3 linked regions of the Homo sapiens genome follow. The protein of the gene in region 1 interacts with the protein of each later gene in a pairwise test. Each region holds a gene or a part of one and is shown on either strand. Other genes may lie near its edges. The genes, in order: RPAIN, CLNK and GSTA1.

Region 1 (3,655 bases):
AATGATGCTGTTTTCTCCATGTGACTGCCCTGTAAGATAGTAGTATTAGAACAGAAGGTGGTTGGTGTTCTCGTGCAGGTCATACAGCTAGTAAGTGGAGGAGATGGGAAGCAAAATCAGTTGTATGAATCCAGTTCCCATGTTTCTTCTACCATCCTGCCTCTCTATTAATGGGTTAATAGTTCACTGAGGGTGGTGGCTTATGCCTGTAATCCCAGCATTTTGAGAGGCTGAGGCAGGAGTATTGCTTGAGGCCAGTTCAAGACCAGCATGGGCAACATAACAAGATCCTGTCTCTACAGAAGTAAAAAAAAAAAAAAAAAAATTATCTGGGTGTGGTAGCAAATACTTGTAGCCTCCCTCAGCCAGAAGGCTTAGGCAGGAGGATCACTTGAACCCAAGAGTTTAAGGTTACAGTGAGCTATAATTTTACCACCTCACTCCAGCCTGGCTGACAGAGGGAGACCCTGTCACTTTAAAAAATAAAATAAAAAAAAGTAAACCTGCCATTTTACAGGATACAGTGATAGTGCATGGTCTGATCCCTTGCCCTATTCATTTTAAGTGCCACATTCTCTATTAACTCCCCAGGGCCTGTGAGCATCCACTCCTTGAGGGAGGTGTCCATAGCATGGTGTAGAGAGCATAATTTTGTACCTTATATAGTTAAGTCATTTATTCCATGTAGCCCTGATTTGATTAGGCCTTGTTTGGTTTTTGTTTTTGTTTTTTTTGAGACAGGGTCTCTGCCCAGGCTGGAATGCAGTGGCGTGATCACGGCCCACTGCAGCCTTGACCTCCTGGGCTTAAGCGATCTTCCCACCTCAGCCTTCTGAATAGCTGGGATCATAGGCGTGTGCCACCACCCCTGGCTAATTTTTTTTTATTAATTTTTTTTTTTTAGCTAAAGATGATAAAAACAAGACAAAAAATTATTTTATTTATGTATTTTTTTTTTTTTTGAGATAGGTTCTTGCTCTGTTGCCCAGGCTGGAGTGCAGTGATGTAATCATGGCTCACTGTGGCTTCATCCTCCTAGGCTCAACCAATCCTCTCATCTCAGCCTCCCGAGTAGCTGGGACCGCAAGTGTGCACCACCATACCGAGCTAATTTTTTTATTTTTTTGTAGAGACAGGGTCTCACTGTGTTGCCCAGGCTGGTCTCGAACTCCTCCCTGGTCTCAAGTGATCCCCCCACCTCAGCCTCCTAAAGTTTTGAGATTACAGGCATGAGCCAAAATGCCTAGCCTAATTTTTTAAATTTTTTTGTAGAGGCAGGGTCTCACTATGTTGCCTAGGCTGGTCTCAAACAGCTGGACTCAAACCATCCTCCTACTTCAGCCTCCCAAAGTGTTGGGATTACAGACATGAGGCATGGCCCCCAGCCTTAGGCTTCATTTTTATGACCTATAAAATGGAGAGAATACCCTATAAATTTGTTGTAAGGCTTAAATAACGTGTGTAGAAGACTTAGTGCATTGTCTGGCATATAGAGAGCTTTCAATAATCAACAGCTATTATTATGGTGAGGCAAGAGCACAAGCTCTTGAGTCATACCTCTAACATTCACTTGGCTTTACTACTTTAATTTGTGTGGCACCGACCAAAGCACTTAATTTCCCCGTGCCTCAGTTTCTTCACCTTTGAAATAAGGATAATAATAGTGAAGAAGTTAATATATGTAAGGAATTTAAAATAGCATTTGACACATAAGTGCCATGCAAGTGTTAGTTGTTAATGACTGTTGCTGTCGACTCTGGTTAGACTGTAAATTCCTTAAGTTATCATCTTTTTTTATTGATTTTCCCTTCCCCCACCTACAAAACCTATCTTAGTGGTGAAACATAAGCCTGACCAAATGTTTTATTTTGGGGCATACTTAACTAATAAGTCTGAAGTGACAAGGATTTACTGTGTTGTGCTGTACTCAGCCATAAGGAACATTCTAAAGCAGAAGTTGGCAGACTTTTTGTGAAGAGCCAGATAGCAAATACTTTAGACTTCACAGACCATGTGGTCTCTGGCACAATTTCTCAGCTCTGCAGTTCTAGTGGAAAAGCAGTTATAGACACTACATAAACAAATAAGCGTGACTGTAGTTTTTTGACCCCTTCCCTAATGTCTAGACTGTGAGCTCAACAATGACAGTCTTTTTCATCTTTGTGCCCCTGTGACTAGCAGATACTAGGTACTGTTGTATGTTTGCTGAATGAATGAGCACACAGATTCTGAACAACACAGATTCCAAGTATGTGGAATCAGCAGGGTCGTCCTGGCATCAGAAATCAGTTCTCTCTTTTTTTTTTTTTTGACACAGAGTCTCGCTCTGTCACTCAGGCTGGAGTGCAGTGGCGCAATCTCGGATCACTGCAACCTCCGCCTCCTGGGTTCAAGTGATTCTTCTGCCTCAGCCTCCCGAGTAGCTGGGATTATAGACGTGCGCCACATGCCTGGCTAATTTTTTGTGTTTGTTAGTAGAGATGGGTTTCACCATGTTGGCCAGGCTGGTTTCGAACTCCTGACCTCGAGTGATCTGCCTGCCTCAGCCTCCCAAAGTGTTGGGATTACAGGTGTGAGTCACCGTGCCCGGCCAGCAATCAGTTCTCTTTGTCAACTTTATTTAGTTGCCTGTGGGACCCTGACATTCTGTATCTGTGCTCCTATGGCCTCTGGAGATGTGTGTGAAAATTGTCTCCTCGGCCCTTAGCCTACTTCACCTCTTGTGCTCACAAAAAGGGGACAGAGAGGAGGGAGAGGAATCCAGCAAGATGAAGCCAGCCTGAGAGAGCATAAAAACCAGTCATTGGTATTGTGGTCTTGCCCAAATCTTTCCCTCGTGTGAAGGAAGCCTTTGACAGTGAAGTTTAGAATTAAATACAGGGCCAGCTGAAGCATGGTGAAGCCCTCCAACTGCCTTTGCCTTGCAGAGCAGTCCATCATCAGCGAGTATGAGAAGAGCTTGCAGTTTGATGAAAAGTGTCTCAGCATCATGCTGGCTGAGTGGGAGGCAAACCCACTCATCTGTCCTGTATGTACAAAGTAAGAGTTTTTAAAACCTTTTCAGCATTATTCGTTCCCATTCCCCACTCCAAGGTGAGTGGAATCTCCCCCCAGATTTGTTGCCTGAAATTCAAGGTTTGGAGATCCAGGTCTGGTGGCCATGATGCTCTGGGATCCTAATTCTGCTTCTAGGTACAACCTGAGAATCACAAGCGGTGTGGTGGTGTGTCAGTGTGGCCTGTCCATCCCATCTCATGTGAGTGTTCCACACACAGATTTCATGATACTTCTTCCCACATGGATCTACTTTCTTGAAGATCCTCCAGTGCTGACTTGGAGCCCATTGTGCATATTTCTTCCCAGTTTTATGTTCAGTGGTGTCACATTGGTAGCTTCAAATCAGCCATGGTGAGAATATCTATGGCATGAAAATTGGCAAACAGTACACATCAGAGCCTTTAGGGCCCTGGAGAGCCATCACCGCTTAACGTTTTTATGGAGACCTCAGCTTGGGATTGGTAACGCCTGTATCTGACGTTTCATAAAAATTTTCTATATATGAAGACATACCTAATTCAGAATTTAAGCTTCAGTAATTTTTTTTTTTTTTTTTTTGAGACGGAGTCTCACTCTGTTGCCCAGGCTGGAGTACAGT
Region 2 (3,655 bases), on another chromosome or scaffold:
ATGCCAGAAATGAGACCCAGGTCCACCCGAGCCCCGAGCTCCTGCTCTCGGCATGGTGCTCCATGAGTACCCTGCTGATGTTCCCAGGTTCATGATCAGGGCATCAATCACTGTCTTCCAAACTAGTCAACAGCATTTAAGGAACTCCCAGATACACCACAAGCATTAGCAAAATATGTATTTTAGTTGTTTCTTTTAAATTTCATTGGTGATACTAATTGAAACACTGCTTCCTAAACACTTATGCATGAGAATCAAAATCCTATTGTGTTTAAATGGTACTGTGGTTTGTCATTTGAACTAAGATGAGCCAAAAGGTCTAGATACAACATGAAAATTTAATATCCATGTGATTGGATGATAATCTTTAACAGTGGTAGGTTCTGTGTTCAATTTCGTGTAAGATAAAGATAAGGGCTGACTAATAGCCTAGGCCCAAACTCTGAGAGGGCTGAATTTTTGTGGACTGCCTAAGGACCACATTTCACCATCAGTTTTGAAGACCCAGAAAGCTAATTGTATCCAAGGCACACAGAGTTGATGGAGCTCAAGAGGTCAGTTCACTCTGGTACTTTGACCTATGTATCCATCTTTGGTGATTTTGTTCAAGTGTACTCAAATTATAAGTTCAGATGATTGGCATATTCCCTCCCAGGAGACAAATGTACACAGGAAACTAAATTGATATTGGGCAGTAGCTTGTTGAGCACTAAGTCAGAGCTGTGTAATTTCAAAAGCTGGATTTGCTGAGCTATGGGTGGTCTGATGCCTTGGCAGGCACCTGGAAAGCCAGTCTGCCCCATGGTTACCTGTAGAAATTTATATATATATATATATCAGGACGTCCTCACTCATGGGCAAGTCTAGGGATCTCCCGATCAGCTTTATCTGTCTGGACTCTTTACACAGGACACCTCCACACAGTCCCCATCCCAAACTCCTACTTCTGATACATGCTGTTTTCACTATACCACGCCATCCAGTCGTTGAGACATGGATAGTGTGGGTTTGAAATCAGTTACTTCCTAGCAATATGGTTTTAGACAAGTTATTTAACTCCTCAGAACCTCTGTTTATCCTTTATAAAATGGAATAAAAATATCTACTGCTCGAATTTGTGGTGAGAAATGAGATTCAGTACATAAAAATGCATATCATGGTGACTAGTAATTATTAAATACAAAGTAAATGGTAGTGGCTATTATCATCATTCTTAGCATTATTATTATGAGTTTATTTTATATTTAAACAAACCTTCCTTAGATTCTTGGCCTTTGTCCCTTTTTTGTCTTCTTTTTTAATTATTATTATACTTTAAGTTTTAGGGTACATGTGCACAACGTGCAGGTTTGTTACATATGTATACATGTGACATGTTGGTGTGCTGCACCCATTAACTCATCATTTAGCATTAGGTATACCTCCTAATGCTATCCCTCCCCCCTCCCCCCAACCCACCACAGGCCCCAGTGTGTGATGTTCCCCTTCCTGCGTCCATGTGTTCTCATTCTTCAATTCCCACCTATGAGTGAGAACATGCGGTGTTTGGTTTATTGTCCTTGCGATAGCTTGCTGAGAATGATGGTTTCCAGCTTCATCCATGTCCCTACAAAGGACATGAACTCATCATTTTTTATGGCTGCATAGTATTCCATGATGTATATCTGCCACATTTTCTTCATCCAGTCTATCATTGTTGGACATTTAGGTTGGTTCCGAGTCTTTGTTATTGTGAATAGTGCCGCAATAAACATACGTGTGCATGTGTCTTTATAGCAGCATGATTTATAATCCTTTGGGTATATATCCAGTAATGAGATGGCTGGGTCAAATGGTATTTCTAGTTCTAGATCCCTGAGGAATCACCACACTGACTTCCACAATAGTTGAACTAGTTTACAGTCCCACCAACAGTGTAAAAGTGTTCCTATTTCTCCACATCCTCTCCAGCACCTGTTGTTTCCTGACTTTTTAATGATCGCCATTCTAACTGGTGTGAGATGGTATCTCATTGTGGTTTTGATTTGCATTTCTCTGATGGCCAGTGATGATGAGCATATTTTCATGTGTTTTTTGGCTGCATAAATGTCTTCTTTTGAGAAGTGTCTGTTCATATCCTTTGCCCACTTTTTGATGGGGTTGTTTGTTTTTTTTCTTGTAAATTTGTTTGAGTTCATTGTAGATTCTGGATATTAGCCCTTTGTCAGATGAGTAGATTGCAAAAATTTTCTCCTATTCTGTAGGTTGCCTGTTCACTCTGATGGTAGTTTCTTTTGCAGTGCAGGAGCTCTTTAGTTTAATTAGATCCCATTTGTCAATTTTGGCTTTTGTTGCCATGCTTTTGATGTTTTAGACATGAAGTCCTTGCCCATGCCTATGTCCTGAATGGTATTGCCTAGGTTTTCTTCTAGGGTTTTTATGGTTTTAGGTCTAACATGTAAGTCTTTCATCCATCTTGAATTAATTTTTGTGTAAGGTGTAAGGAAGGGATCCAGTTTCAGCTTTCTACATATGGCTAGCCAGTTTTCCCAGCACCATTTATTAAATATGGAATCCTTTCCCCATTTCTTGTTTTTGTCAGGTTTGTCAAAGATCAGATAGTTGTAGATATGTGGCATTATTTCTGAGGGCTCTGTTCTGTTCCATTGGTCTATATCTCTGTTTTGGTACCAGTACCATGCTGTTTTGGTTGCTGCAGCCTTGTAGTATAGTTTGAAGTCAGGTAGTCTGATGCCTCCAGCTTTGTTCTTTAGGCTTAGGATTGAGTTGGCAATGCACGCTCTTGTTTGCTTCCATATGAACTTTAAAGTAGTTTTTTTTCCAATTCAGTGAAAAAAGTCATTGGTAGCTTGATGGGGATGGCATTGAATCTATAAATTACCTTGGGCAGTATGGCCATTTTCACGATATTGATTCCTCCTACCCATGAGCATGGAATGTTCTTCCATTTGTTTGTATACTCTTTTATTTCATTGAGCAGTGGTTTGTAGTTCTCCTTGAAGAGGTCCTTCACATCCCTTGTAAGTATTTTATTTTCTTTGAGGCAATTGTGAATGGGAGTTCACTCATGATTTGGCTCTCTGTTTGTCTGTTATTGGTGTATAAGAATGCTAGTGATTTTTGCACATTGATTTTGTATCCTGAGACTTTGCTGAAGTTGCCTATCAGCTTAAGGAGATTTTGGGCTGAGATGATGGGGTTTTCTAGATATTTGACCTGAAGAAGTTCTATTTTAAGGTGATTTCTACAGAAACTAATTTCATCATATTCTTATTTATTTTTTATTATTCATCTATCAAAGCCTTGGGTGTCTTACAATTCCTCAAATGTGCTAATCCTCTGAAAATATTAAGATTTAATGAAAAATAATAGAAATTATTTTGGAATACCTTCCTAGCCAAATTTCAAATCCTCAGAGTTTTTCACGGCACTGATGCAAAGAAATTACTCAGTAATTATCTGTGGAACTATTCTTGCATAGCGGTTTATACTTTACAGAGTGCTTTCACTTTCATCATCTTACTTGGTCTTCAAAATAATCCTATGAGCAAAGAAGGATGAGCACTCATAGCCTCATCTTTCAGATTAGAGAAGCTGAGACTCAAGTTGTACAATTCACTGTATAATTCAGCATACCTGGGTTGAAAGATTTGTC
Region 3 (3,655 bases), on another chromosome or scaffold:
CAGTGAGCCAAGATCACGCCATTGCTCTCCAGCCTGGGCAAAAACAGTGAAACTCCATCTCAAAATTAATAATAAATAAATAAATACATTAGTTGTTAAAGGCAAGTATATTTTTGTTCCACACTCAACAACCACAAAACTTTGCAAGAAGAATCTTAATGTTAAATATCAGAGCTGGGGGTTTGGAGAGAAAACGCAACTGTTCCTAAGTCTTGGCACTGGAACTCCTGCTTTCAATGAGTCCTGTGCCCTTCCATTCACATTCATGATACAATTAGTTGCATCTGTCCCTGCAGCCACTGGTTTTCATTCTCTGATACTCTGCTATGTTCCACCTCCCAAACAGCCTGGGATAGAGCAAGGGCTATCAAACTTCACTGATGAGCCCAGTCAATTTCTCTCTAACCATTTACAATGAGCAAGTGAGCATGCACACGTGCAAACATCCGTACACACAATATACAAATAACTGAAACTAACAACTCATCAAACATTACTTACCTTTCAACATGTCATGCTCACTGACATTTTCTATTCTTTTCTATTTTATTTTTAAAAGTAATGGGCTTTCACAATCTACTGAAAGATTACCATGCATATTTCAGAAACACTAACATAGAAAATAAGACTCAGTCCTTGGTTTTTAACAGCAGTGAGTCTGCATCCCGATCCATCATTTACTCTGAGAAAGTTACTTTAAAAACCTCAGTATCCTCAAATGTAAAATGAGAATAACAACTGCATTCATCTTAGGTGATTTTTGTAGGATAAAACGAAGAGAAGTTTAGAAGAATGACCAGTGTGTAACTGATGTTGAACAAATGCTAGCTCCTTCCATATTGCAAAATTAATGCAGCAACATCTCTTCTTCCAGCTTATAAAACAAAATGCACCCCATAGAGTTAGAATACAGAATTACAAAAGCTGCAGGGATTAACAATCTCTGTCTGTTGATAGATTTTGGATCTTCTAGCTACAGTTAAACAAGTCTGAGGCCTAATTTCTGGTTTTGATCAAATGTAGTCTCACAGTCAAAGAGGTGAAGAGTGACTTAGCTCCCTGCCGGTCCTCCCTGTCAGTGACATCCTCTGGTTTCATGGCCAGTTCATGGGTTCCCAGGGCCTTCACCCAGCTGGCTTCCAGGAGTGACTTCATTTTAGTCCTTGGTGTAGATATTCATGTCCATCACCAACCGGAGTGTGACTGTGAACATTGTATTTCTCTGATGTTCCATTTCATTAACTAAAAAATTGAGATAACAATCATTTCACGGGACTATAAGGAGGGTTAAAGATATAAAATATTGAAAGGGACTAGCATTGAGGAAGGATCACTAGGAAGTTTTCAATAAATATTAGTTCTTGAATTCTTCCTCTTCCAATAACTCCTATACATGTATTTTTACCACATACTCTCACCTCTTATGCTGCCAAGAAAAGTCACAGTTAGCCAATGAAGACTTGAGACTGGTTTGCTGGAATCTGAGGGTGGCCACTGCTGGGTAACAATTTGAGCCAAGAAAACATTCCAGGAACTCCTCCAACACAGTCATGAAGAAGGAAGGTTCTTCTTCAGTATTGTTGGTGGTTTTCAACTACATATCCTAAAGTACATTTTTGATTCTATCGTTTCAATTATTCATTCATTCATTCATTCATTCAGGCTTAGAGAAACCTCCAGGAGACTGCTATCATGGCAGAGAAGCCCAAGCTCCACTACTTCAATGCACGGGGCAGAATGGAGTCCACCCGGTGGCTCCTGGCTGCAGCTGGAGTAGAGGTAGGTTCTGAGTTAGGTCATCTTAAGTTGGATTTAAAATTGTGTTATCACATACTTTTCCCACAGAAACTATGAGATGTTGCTTACTGAAGCATTGTGCCTTAAATAAAAATGGACTGTAATTAAGAAAAAGATGAACAGATTTGACCTATTAATTCTTAAAATTTCTTCTCATCTAAAAGCAAACATATTAAAATACAATTAAGACACTAATCACAAAGTGCAGAACTTAAGTGGATTAGAATTTAAACAAACTGTAAAGAATAATTTATAGCATTTATACAATTAGAAACATGAATATCGATTGAATATATGAAGACATGAAATAATTATTGTTAATATTTCATGTGTGATAATGTACTATGGCTGTCTTTAGAATAGTTAATGTGTTTTAGGAAAACACATTGAAGTATTTAAGGATTAATCATATGGATCTGGGATTTCCTTGGAATTATTACAAGAGGAGAAGTAGGTGGGCATATAGATGAAACCATATTGGTTTTGATTGATAATTATTGATTCTAGGTGAGAAGTATAAGGAGAATCATTATGCTTTTCTGTTTATATTTATTCATGTTCATAATTTCCACAATAAAAAAATAAAAATGCATAATATTAAAAAATGATTGTAATTAGAGGTAAAATGCAAACTACAAATGAGAGATGGAAGGGAGTGGATTGTAACAAACTACCTATTAAAGATTGACTACATTCACAGCAATTATTTACTTGAGCACTTATTAATTCCAGGTTCTGTACTCGGTCATGGAGATAGTGAACAAGACAGACACAGTCCCTGCCCTGGGGCAGCCTACGTGTCTATGAGGATGCAGAGAAATAAACACGTGGTTAAAATGAGGGGAGGAGGCTTCTAGAACACACAAGCATTCCCCAATGCCACAAAACCACATCAGAAACCAGAGGTTTTCCTTAAAAATAATGCTAGTGTGGGACCCTAATTCCTTTATTAAATTGAGAATTTTACCCTATTGTGCCTCGTACTTCAGAAGAGAAAATTACAGTTGCAAGTGTGAAAGCTGTGCAACAGTGGCGACCTATTTCACACTTAGCAGGGTTCCTGAGAAGTGGGGCGATACAAATTACAGCAGAGGCTCCTTGGTGGCAAAATGTTTGATAGCCATTAGCCCATGGCATGCCTCATGCTGGGGACACACAAGGTTGTGGTCTGATCTCACTTGGAGACACAGGCTTTCCTAAGATATGACAACACCATAACTAGAAGAACTGCTCAGTGCCTTTTCTCCAGTGATGTCCCCCTCAAAATATGACCTAATCATAGACATTCATATCAGGGTGGAGTTGAAGTGAACTAAAAGATTTAGCAGCTATGTGCTGTGACCCATGCACTTTTCTCAATGAATTAGGTCTAAATTTCCAAATGGCCATGACCAGCCCCCTCTGTGTACCCTGCCAAACTCAGAAATCTTGTATTCTCCAAATGATGCACCAGATGGGGCCATTCAAGGCCACAGTCTATAATAGAATGAACTAACAAGAACGTATTTACTGTTTCTGCTTCCAGTTTGAAGAGAAATTTATAAAATCTGCAGAAGATTTGGACAAGTTAAGAAATGGTAAGATCAATCTCTAAGTTCCTCTGATGAGGGTATCTAGTAGAAGGTACACGGGGAGGTTTGCGCAGCCGGCAATGTCTATGGGTGTGGGGCATGGTATTTGTACATGGTGCAGAGGGAGAAAGTGGTTAAAATGGAAGGGATGTGGCTCCTTGAGCAAGTCTGGCAACTCTCTCCAGGTTAAAAGGACCAGACCTCTCAGAGTATTTGCTAGAGGAACAATCTCCCACCGCTGAGAAAGCCCTTTCTTTGTTTTCATGCTTGGGGCACCATGAATGAGT

The links.
Region 2: the proteins of RPAIN (region 1) and CLNK interact in a two-hybrid assay, tested with the Homo sapiens proteins (one large-scale study listed by BioGRID and IntAct).
Region 3: the proteins of RPAIN (region 1) and GSTA1 interact in a two-hybrid assay, tested with the Homo sapiens proteins (one large-scale study listed by BioGRID and IntAct).

Annotation. Positions count from the first base shown.
Region 1 is NC_000017.11:5,423,044-5,426,698, forward strand, and holds part of RPAIN (RPA-interacting protein), read left to right. Parts: intron 1-2,927; coding exon 2,928-3,039; intron 3,040-3,093; coding exon of another isoform or gene 3,094-3,164; exon of another isoform or gene 3,165-3,186; intron 3,187-3,192; coding exon 3,193-3,256; intron 3,257-3,655. UniProt on the Homo sapiens protein: Mediates the import of RPA complex into the nucleus, possibly via some interaction with importin beta.
Region 2 is NC_000004.12:10,678,169-10,681,823, reverse strand, and holds part of CLNK (cytokine-dependent hematopoietic cell linker), read left to right. Parts: intron 1-3,655. UniProt on the Homo sapiens protein: An adapter protein which plays a role in the regulation of immunoreceptor signaling, including PLC-gamma-mediated B-cell antigen receptor (BCR) signaling and FC-epsilon R1-mediated mast cell degranulation.
Region 3 is NC_000006.12:52,797,305-52,800,959, reverse strand, and holds part of GSTA1 (glutathione S-transferase A1), read left to right. Parts: intron 1-1,662; 5' UTR 1,663-1,692; coding exon 1,693-1,779; intron 1,780-3,322; coding exon 3,323-3,374; intron 3,375-3,655. UniProt on the Homo sapiens protein: Glutathione S-transferase that catalyzes the nucleophilic attack of the sulfur atom of glutathione on the electrophilic groups of a wide range of exogenous and endogenous compounds.